2 separate regions of the Homo sapiens genome follow, and region 1 is linked to region 2. Evidence: fine-mapped expression QTL. Tissue or cell type: lung. Region 2 holds a variant in brackets; the other region holds the start of a gene. All regions are shown on one strand. Distances are between the middles of the regions. Region 1 holds the start of NTRK3 (neurotrophic receptor tyrosine kinase 3). Region 2 overlaps NTRK3 (neurotrophic receptor tyrosine kinase 3).

Evidence for each region. PIP is the estimated chance that this variant, and not a neighbour inherited with it, causes the effect.
Region 1: NTRK3 starts here. The variant in region 2 is the best candidate, but not a certain one, in a credible set for the expression of NTRK3 in lung (TOPMed, PIP 0.57).

What each region holds. Positions count from the first base shown.
Region 1 is chr15:88,254,101-88,259,473 of GRCh38, forward strand. It overlaps NTRK3 (neurotrophic receptor tyrosine kinase 3), which reads right to left and starts at 2,639. Exons shown (of 20, transcript NM_001012338.3): 1 at 2,544-2,639; 2 at 2,184-2,386; 3 at 1,806-2,068. The coding sequence starts at 2,053. The region is part of intron 1 of NTRK3-AS1 (NTRK3 antisense RNA 1); the gene reads left to right. RefSeq lists enhancers at 783-1,320, 1,321-1,857, 4,198-4,492.
Region 2 is chr15:88,095,823-88,101,195 of GRCh38, forward strand. The region is part of intron 13 of NTRK3 (neurotrophic receptor tyrosine kinase 3); the gene reads right to left. Among named protein-coding and RNA genes, the nearest start is that of MIR11181, 150 kb to the left of the region's middle. The variant A/T (reference allele first, on the strand shown) is at 2,651.

The DNA.
Region 1 (5,373 bases), 160 kb after region 2:
TTCCAACCCTTGGCCCACCCCTGGCAATCTCTAGGTCAGGCTTCTGAGCACCAAGACTGGCTGCTCAGCTCCCACCTTCACCAGCACCCTACTACCCACATCCACCCCCTACACACATACACATACAGCCCCAGCAATGCACTTCCAAGTCTGAGTTTCCCTAACAGTCTCACTCTGAACCCTTCTCCCTGCATCCTTGGGAATGCTGGAAGCCTGTGGCCTGCAGTGGGGGAGAGGCACAGTTGGGTCTGTCCTGTTCCTCCTGCCCTCCCTGCTGACCCCCGCCCCTTGGCTGTTTATCTTGTCATCTCTGGCCGGGTTGAAGAGGGTAAGGGGGTGAACAGCAGAGCTGAGATATGGGTCAAGCTTGTCTCCTGGGCCAGGAGTCAGAGACATCTCCTGGGCTATCCATTTCCCTCAAACTGTCAGCTGCGAGAGCGCAAGCAGAAGCTCCATTAAGCCGAGAGGGCTGGTGGGCTTTCCAAAGAGCAGGACTGCAATTCCTCCAGGCTTTGCAGCCCCATGGCCCTGGGCTGAAGCAAGGGGAGGTGCTCCCAGAGCAGCACCAAAGGCAGGTCCGGCCCCCTTAAGTCCGTCGAAGGGGTAAAGAGCCACCCAAAATGCCTTCCTCCAGACCTTGGCCAGGACCTCAGCACAAACCCTTCTCAGCTGCCTACCCATTGCTGAGGGTCCCCAAGGGCTGGAAGCCTTGGGGGAAAAGAGGTGAGAATTATCCTCTGAGCAATTCCAGTATGGTCCACACCCTTCTCCAGGGTGGTAGGTTAGGAAGGGGTCACCTGGCCGAGGTCAACGAAAGAAAAGAGGAGCAGACTCTCCAGTCCCCAGCCCTCGATCTGTCCTCTCCTTTGCGTCTGCTGCCATCCCCACCAAAGAAAAATAGCAAGGAGAAAAGAGCAGGCCACCACTGGTCTCCCTCGGAGGGGGCAGAACCAAGCAAAAGCCAGCCAGAGTTGAATGTTCCAAATGAACCGATCCGCACGATCACACAAGAAACCCCTCTCCTCAAAACACACGCCCTCTCCTCTCCCTGCGCCATCCTGACTCGGAATAGTTCCGAGCAGTTATCAAAGCCCAAACTGGGAAGGGATCTGTAGGCGCCCAGATGCAGATGAGGGTGGCAAAGGGGTGTCTCGGAAATGCCCAAAATGGGGCTGGAGAGGGCGGGCTGCAGGAGGGGAAGGGAAGAGGTAGGCGTCCATGACGGCCTCCACACGTCCAAAGTCTCCCCGCGAGCAGCCAGCTCGCAACTTGTTTACTTGTCAGCATGTTTTGCTGTTTCCAAATGGAAATAGTTAAACACCTCGGCTGGATCGCGAGCAGTCCCTATCTGTCACCTTCCCTGCCGGCTAAGCGCTGCCGCCGCTGCCACCGCCGCTGCCGCCTCTGCCAAAGAATCGAACCTCGTCTACTTTATTCCACTTGAGCGTGGCCAAACTGTTGCTATTTAGTGGGGAGCAAAAAAAAACAATTTGCACCATCGAAACGAGCCAGCAACTGGTTGGGAGGCGGGCGGTAGCTGGGCCCCGCGTGCCCTCGGCGGCCGGGGTCCTCTCCGGGGAGAGGCACACACACGCATAGCCGGATCGCGCCTCGCCAGGGCCGGAGTCACCTGGAATGCGCAGCCGGAGAGCATCTCCCGAGCCAGAGCGAGCCTGACGCGCGCCCAGCGGGCGGCGGGCAGCGGCGAGCTGGGGCGGGCGGAGGGCCGGCTCCCGGCCGCGGGTGGGCAGGAGGGAGACGCAGAGCGCGGGGGAGGCAGGCTGGGGAGCGGCCGCCTGACTTACATGGAAGTGATATTCCTTGAGATGTCCGTGATGTTGATACTGGCGTTCCCATTGCTGTTCCCTGAATCCTGCCCTTCCAGGAGGGGGAAGAGGTTCCCATCGTCCGGCCGCCGGCAATTGATCTCAGTCTTGCTGCAGACACAATTTGCAGGGCAAGCCAGCACGGAGCCCACATAGTCCAGCCAGACGCTTCCCAGCAAGAAAATCCGCCAGAAACTACACTTGGCTGGGCAAAGAGAGACATCCATCTCCGATCGCTGCTTCTAAAAAAGAGGAGGAGGAGAGGAGAGGGGGGTGGGGTGGGGGGAGTGGGGAGAGCAGGGGGGGAAGGAAACAAAGACGGCGAGGGAGGGGGGAAGGGGGAGGGGGGGCCTCTGCCTTTGAAACGCCGAGCGATCAGATGCAAAATCCTTCAGCGTCTGAAACCATCGCGGACGCCGCCGCCGCCGCCGCCGCCGCCGGGTGGGAGCCGCGAGGAGCGCCTAGTGGCGCGGTCTGCCGGGCATGGTGGCCGGCTCGGCGATCGCTGACTCGCCGGGTCCGGGGGCTCTGGAAGCGAGGCGCGCTCTCCGACTCCGAGACTTTGCAGGGTTGCAACAGACGGTGGGGAGGCAAAAAAAAAAAAGGAAAAGGAAAAAATGGTGCTAAAGTCACCAAGTCCCACCTACTGGGCAGAATTAAAACGGACACACCACGCACCTGCAAAACACACACACTCACTCTCACACATACACACACCCGGAGCCCGAGGAAAGGAAGAGAAGGAAGATGCAGTAGGAGCTGCAGCAGCCGCCGCGAATGGCTCGCCGCGCGGCTGCAGAAATGTACAAGTGCTCCGAGCCTTACGAAACGCACGGGTTATCGGAGCGTCTTCCTCGGCTCCCTCCCTCCCTTCCTCCCTCCCTCCTCCCCTCCCTCGTCGCGGCCTCCTCCCCCCGCCCCCCGCCCGGGCTGGGAGCGGCAGGAGAGCGGAATCTCCCCCTCCCTCCCCTCCCCACACCCGTCTCTCTCCCCGCCTGTCCTCTCCCTCCTCCCCACCCACCCACCCACCCACTCGCCGGCTCGCGGCTGTAGCCGGCACCGCCACCCGCAGCCTCGCGGCAGCCCGCCCGCTCCACGCCTCGCAGCGCGGCGCCCGCTAGCCGCAGCCCGGGGGAAACCGAGACCGAAGGGAAAAAGTTGCATTTGAGATTGCGAGGGTCGGGGCTGGGGAGGGAGAGTTGGCGAGCTGGCTGCACGACACGGAAAGGCGCTCTCCTTTCCACTTTTTGGCCCTCGCGCTACCCGGTTTTGCTGCAATCCGGACCGCGGTAGGAAGTGAAATGAACGTGGCGGAGGTGATTGGGGAGTGCTCCCAAGCCTTGGGTGGGGGGCGCTCCCAAGCCTGGGTGGGTGGGGGGCGCAGGCTCACGGACGGCGACGGGGGGTGCCGGAGCGCACAGACACCCCAGAGAAGCACCCAGAGCCGGGGACCGGGACCGCAGACGCGCAGTCCTTGGTCTGAATGACACTCATTTCCGTAATCTAGAGTCTGGGGCTCTGGTCTTGGCTGGGAGGGGACTGCGGGACATGGCACGCTAGGTGCCCCCCGTGCCCGCTGCGCTTTCTTGGAGGTGGGTTTTGCATTCGGCCTTGAGCAGGCATGGATCGGGGAAGGAAGAAACAGGGGTCGAAAGGGCTGCGCTGGAGAGCCGAGGTGGCCCCGGGCGAGCTGTGCGTGCAAGAGAAATGGCCGGGGGAAATTGAGATGCAAGGGGCATATTTTGGCAAGCGCCACGCCAGCACCGTCAGAGGCCGGCTTCTCGGGCTCAGCTCTCGGGTGAGCTGAGCTGGCTGCCGGGTGAGGGGGCGGGCGGGCTGCTTTCTCCGGATTCGGGGGCGCAGAACCTCCTCCTTCCCTCCCACACAAGCACCCCTTCCTGGTAGGGACGCAAAGCAGGTGCAGCTTTCGACGAGAGCTCAGATCTCATCCGGGAAAGAAGTGTGTGTGGGGGGGGCCCCGCTTTTGCGCTGGTAGGGATTTTTTTCTTAATAAAACATAAAGATGCCAAGTGTGAGCTGTTTGCTGAAAAAAAAAAAAACGAGCATTCGCTGTGGGAAAGGAGAAGAAAGGGTTAGGGGAGTCCGAGCAGGCAGACACACTACAGCATTCACACGCAGAAGAAAGCAGGGTTCTCCTTCCCGAGCTTGGAGGAGGGCAGGCGAGGAAGCAAAATACATTGAATTCAATTCAACTGCATCCAGTATCTGAAAGGAGTCTCCCCCGCCCCCCTGTGGATTCCGATGCAGGTCATGCAACTTGCAGGCAAGATGGGGGAAGGGGTATGCCGGTGTCACCGCCTGCCCCAGGCGCAACCACAAACAGGCCGGTCGCCTTCGGGTGGCACTGTCGCTTGGAGTAAAAACTTGGACGAAAAAAATGGAAGAAAAGAACATGCCTATACAAGGCAGTTTTCCCGACTTCCCGTCACGTTCCACCTTCCCTTGGCCCCAGGGAGATTTTTACCCCCGTCGCCATTATGGCCTTGTCTCCAGACTGGCATTTTGCCCTCCCACCAGCAGGCGGGGACAGAGTGTGAAGACCTCCTTGGACTCTCAAACCACTTGCTACTGGCCCTAGGCCAATCCTGGCTGTCCTTAGGCCACTGGGAATTTCCCTGTCACTTCAAGTGCCATTCTGGGATTGGCTTTAGAATATCTGAGAGTCAGGAAACTGAGGTGTAGTCAGATCCTAACACTTGGCCTCTCTTGGGAGGTGGCAGGTGGCAGCAGAGAAACACAGCCTCTCTCAGACCACTCCTGGGCAGGGAACGCCAAGTGGATTCAGCCCAGCATCAGTGCTCCAGCCTGGAACTGAAATGGTTGTGTCCAAAAGATGCCCAGCCCACTTTTTTGAGAGAGAGAGAGAGAGAGAAAGAAAGAGAGAGAGAGAGGATTTTTAACATGTCAAGCAGAGAAGAAGAGACATCCATAAGTTAGAACAACAAAAACAACAACAACAAAAAACCTTTAAAAACCCCTCTGGATTTGGTAAAAATGCAGATTGTGGAGCAAGGGGCCCTGATGGGCAAGAAGTCTTTCATCCTGACAGTAAAATGGGATTAAGATGGGGTGCTACGTTTATGCTCACACTCTGGGCCTGAGCAGGAAGCGACAGCTGAAAAAGAGGGAAGCCCTTTCAAAAGCAGGTGACGCATGGACACATAGAGGGGACAATGCACATGAGGGTCTACCAGAGGGTAGAAGGTGGGAGGAGGGAGAGGATCAGGAAAAATAACTCATGGATACCAGGCTTAATACCTGGGTGATGAAATAATCTGTACGACAAACCCCATGACACATGTCTACCTGTATAACAAAGCTGCACATCCTACACACGTACCCCTGAACTTAAAGGTTTAAAAAAAAAAAGCAGGTGATAGACTAGAGTGGGGAAGAGCAGAATTTCATTTCTAACCACAGGGAAATGACAAGCTTTCTGGGACTCCGCTTTCCCATCTGTAAAATGACCACGTTAAGACCAGATCCTCAAAACCCAAAGTGTGGCCCTCTGTCCAGTAGCATCCAT
Region 2 (5,373 bases):
CCATGTACCTATGCCCCAGCTTATCTGAGTGGTAACATCTTACATAACCATAACACATTATCAAAACCAGGAAATCAGCCCAATTTTACTCAGATTTCACCAGAAAGCCCAATCTCCTTCTGCAGTGGTCATTTGTCCATTTTTAGCAGCCCAGCATTCATTCCCTAACAGCGATTTGATTTTCTATCAAGGAATTATCTTTCTTCTATTGTGTGTAGTATAAATGGGAAAATAATTTTAGGTGGTGACCTCTAAAAGGAAGCCAAAGTGACTTTGCTCCCCATTTCCTTCCCCAGAACAAACAGAGGGAGGGAACACAGGGCATCCTAATCATGCTGTTCTCCGAGATGCTAACTGTCCTGCCAGTTTATTCCAGCATGGGACAAAATCTTATTCTCTCCCATCCCCAATCCTGACCAGCCCTCTCCTCCAGGCCTTATTACATCCAGAGAGCCCCCAGCATCCCTCCATCATTTACATTTTGCCTGGTTAGCCAGAATCAGTTTCTGTGGCTTATATAAAAGAATATGGACTGAATCACCCACGATGACTATCAACCAAGGATGACCTGGTTGGGAAAAGCCCCACTGGAGAAGACCCTACTTCACCATGACACAGGCCCAGAGGCAGGTGCTGCTGAGGCCCCACTCATATCCCTGGCCCACCTGAGTCTCCTGGCAAAGACAGCAGGCAGTTCAGCCCCCAAACTACACCCACCTCAAGAGCCTGCATCCTTTTTCTTTGCCTAAGGACTTTCTCCAGCACAGTAAGAGCAAGCTTGGCCTTAAGCAGGTACAACCCAGAAGTGTGGGGTAATTAATACCACTGGAACAACCCATAACTAATTAATGGAGGACAGGAGTCACTAAATACATGTTCCAGTCCCTGCATCTGCAGTGGAGAGCAACTTTGAGGCAGGTGCCACCCAGTTTCTCAGACGGTCCCCAGCAGGACTAAGCTCCAGTTACCCACTGCAGCAATCCACTCACTGTCACGCTCTTTCTTGACTTTATCATCTCCCTTTCATATTGCCCGCTTGCTCCCTAATGCATCCTGGAATCACCTCCCAAATAAATTACCTGCACATCAAGTCCTTATCTCAGAGTTGACTTTTGGAGAACCAAAACTAAGATTGAAAAGCAAAGAAGGATTTGACAGCCTTTCTAAACAAAAGAAGAGAGTCTGGTAGTGCTTTAGGCTTATGGCTCAAAGCTGTGCTATCCACAACAGTGGTCACTAACCACATGTGGCCACTGAGCACCTGAGACTTGGCTAGTGACACAGGCTGACATGATAGCATCTCTGATATATTGGGCTAAATAAAATATAGTATTACAATCAATTTCACCTATGTCTTTTTATTATTAACATGTCTACTAGAAAATTTAACGTTACATCCTTGGCTGGAATATATTTCTATTGAACAGTGCTGGTTAAAGAGGTGTGTCAGAGAACAGTTGGGATATTATTGCTACTATCATTAATGCTGTTAGCATGACAAATGTACCAGAGGACTATGAAGAGTGTGATTATGTATATGTCTACCTGAGTAACTCCTAGAGTGACAGGAACGCACTGATAAGAACTATTTTTACACAGTACAAGAAGAGGAATGGGAAGAGATAGTCTCATACACTGATAGAGGCTTTGTTGATTGGTCAAACTCTTCTCTAACACACTTTAGCAACATGTTTATCCTCACGCTTAATATAGTAATTCCACCACCAGGAATCTAAGGTATAGGATAATCCTAACTAAGGAAAACATACATACAAAGATGTTCACCTCATTGTTACTGATAATAGTATTTGTAACTTAAGTGACCAATAAACGGGGAATGATTAAATTTAAAAAGACAGATTTACTTGGATTGAAAAGCACGCAATCTTTAAAAACGATGGTTATAATGATTACATAATAATATGGAGACTATTTATGATATACTATGTGAAAGTAAAGACACAAAATTGCATCTACAGCATGATAAATATGTAACAAGGACTAGAAGGAAAGGTGCCAAGATGTAAACAGTGTTTATTTTGGGGTGCTAGCACAAGGGTGATTTACTGTTTTTCTCTATTTCCCAAGTTAGTTTCATGGACATTTGCTACTTCGGTAACAGAGAACCAAGAAAACGACTATCTTCTTTAAAAAATGTGAACTGCTAAAAGTGTGTACTTTTTGCAAAGGATGTTTTATTCTACAGTGTCCTTCCATTTTGCCAAATTTATGTTATAAAAATCTATCTTTTCCTCTGACAAAAAGAAACAAAGGTAAATCTAGTTCAAGCTGCTACTGAAAGGATAAGGCCAATAGGAAAAGCACTGTTTATAAGCAGCAAGTGGACTTTGAGCACGGAAGAGCAACCGGGGTTTATAAAGAGTAAATCACACCCCACCACGGAAGTGATATCTTTTCTTAATTGGCAAAAACGAGCGAGTGGCCAAGGAAAAGGGAGGCAAGGTGAGAGAGTGGGATTTCAGAGAATCTGTTGACGTAGCATCTACCAAAATCTCCCTTGGAAAATTAATCCAAATTGGCTGGACTACGCATGCCATCAGCTCCCAACATTAACAAGGATCATAAGCTTTATTTACAAGGGCTTATCTTTCAAGCCACTCGTGGAGCTTCAGCAAGCCTCGCGCATGAG[A/T]CATTAAGGCGCTTGGACAAGGATAACAGCAACCTGGGTGGGATGGAAATACTCACCAGGAGACGGTAAACAACAGAACTTATGATAAAATGCAGTTTCTTTTCTTGAGCAGAGGGCCCCAGATAGCGGGCCAGCTATGGCGAGGTTGGAGTGAGGCCTAGAGAACGTGTTAACATCTTTATTAACAATCTGGAAGAAGATGTAAACAGAACATTAATTCACAAGGAATAAATCCGCAGGGGCCAGAAGACTAGAGGAATTACAGAAAAGGATGGGGAGGAGCAAAACCAAGAGGAAAGGAACATGGGAGAGATGGAGTGTGAAAGACAGGCATTCATCTTGGGCCCAAAATCAAGGGAGCTGCTCAGAAACTCAGTAATCAAGAGAGATAATACTGTAATGTGATATGCTATGAAAACAAAATTAATGCAAAAAATCTGTAGGTTTAAAAAAGTCTTGATTACTGGGGTTTTTAATTTGTGGCACCCTCTTAAATTTTTTGCCCAAAGCGAAGGGCTCATATACCTCACCTTAATCTTGCAAAGGTGGTAGGGGTGATGAACGACAAGATGTAACAGCCAAGGCCACCTGGAGAGCACAGGGCTGAAAGAGCATTGTAGTGGGTGGTGTGTAAGCCTTGGTTTTTCCAGAATAGAGGCTGAAGATCATCCAGGAGGCTGTGAGAGGCTCCAGGGAGGTGACCGGTACAGTGTATTGGGCAGCTTATTAGTAGAAAGATGGCAGCAACTTGGAAGGAATTCACAGAACCAGGGAAAGCCGTCAAAATGTGGAGCACGACTGACTTTGGAAGGGAAAAGGAAAACATGGTCCAGCTGATGAAAAGAAAAAAGATGATTTGGAGAAGGAACATGGAAGAGAGAAGGTGCTTTGGCTACAGTACCTGCTAAAAGCTAAAAAAGTCTCTCATCAAGAGAGGCTGGACAAGGGGAAATGACTGCAAAGACGTGTATTATGAACAGGAACATGGATTCAAAATTTAGATCCTTCATTTTACTGACTGATCTCATCCCTTAGTTGGCCAGGTATTCCCTGAAACTCTTAATGATTCATGAAACAAAGAGGCTAGAACTTAAGTCCATAAAAGTGCAAAATGCCACAGCAGTAGGAACATGGCATCGGGAGCTAAGAGCCTGGGTGCTAGCCGGGTCTGCCACAATCAAAACTGTCCTCAGAGAAGTCACTTGATCTCTCTGAGTCTCCAATTCTGCATCCAAAAGCAGGGGTGGGGGAAACTTAAAAGCAACTGTCTTTTATTCTATGACCACATTGACTTAATAGTTACTAAGTGCTCACATGAACAAAAAACAAACATTAAAACTGGAAATTGAACGCTATGGTGGGGCGGTTCACATAGTTAGAGATAACCGACAGCATGGACTAGCCCCACACACATCTACTGAAAAGGCTTCAGGATTTGGGGAGGGGGACATGGAGTTGACAAGGATACTTTGCACCTTCTCTGGCCTTTTGAGGACTCTACGGTTAAAAGTTAACTCCAAGGGCAGCAATGGACAGACAAAGCTTAAACTACAGATTGTTTAAGCTTGTTTAATTAAGCTTGAATTACTCTTCCAGTGATGAGGATAAAGGTTTCCCCATCAAATTCCTTGAAGCTCACTCCTCACTCCTGTGTTCCCTAAAACCCCCATGTGCTGGCCCCAGTGCTGGCCACCTTTCAGATATAAGCTTTCCTAAGATTCTGTTGTGAAAGGGAGACACACACAGCAAAGAAGCAAAATGAGAATCAAGCTCTGCTCCAAAGAACAATGCAAGAGGCTTCGGTGCTATTACAAGTGTGTTATAACCAAACAGCCAAAAGGACTGATCCTCCCAACACCCCTGTTCTCCACAGGGCTCCCATCTGGAGAGCCATATGCAGAAAATACTGGCTGGGGGGAACCAAGTATTACATAGTTAACAACTGAGCTGGCAGCCAGCAACTCCCAGTAGTGAGCTGGTAAACCTCAGATGGCGGAAACAGAGTTTACCATTCCATCTTCTGTGAATTCAAGCAAGCCTCAGCTAATTTACCCACCTGATAGCAGACAGCAGTGCAGAGAACAAAAAGAGACATGCAGCCAGGATGTCACAGAAGAAGGGCATAAGAAAAAGTATACTGCATGGGTACTGACCTTTCAGGCAAAGGAAACCTGCCCACTTGAAAACATGACCCTCTGAGTGAATGCCTGGGGCTCTGTCCCATCAAATTATAAACTCCTCCTACCTTAAAAATCTGATCTTTGACAAACCTGACAAAAACAAGAAATGGGGAAACGATTCCCTATTTAATAAATGGTGCTGGGAAAACTGGCTAGCCATATGTAGAAAGCTGAAACTGGATCCCTTCCTTACACCTTATACAAAAATTAATTCAAGTTGGATTAAAGACTTAAATGTTAGACCTAAAACCATTAAAACCCTAGAAAAAAACCTAGGCAATACCAGTCAGGACATAGGCACGGGCAAGGACTTCATGTCTAAAACACCAAAAGCAATTGCAACAAAAGCCAAAATTGACAAATGGGATCTAATTAAACTAAAGAGCTGCTGCACAGCAAAAGAAACTACCATCAGAGTGAACAGGCAACTTACAGAATGGGAGAAAATTTTTGCAATCTACTCATCTGACAAAGGGCTAATATCCAGAATCTATAATGAACTCAAACAAATTTACAAGAAAAAAACAAACAACCCCATCAAAA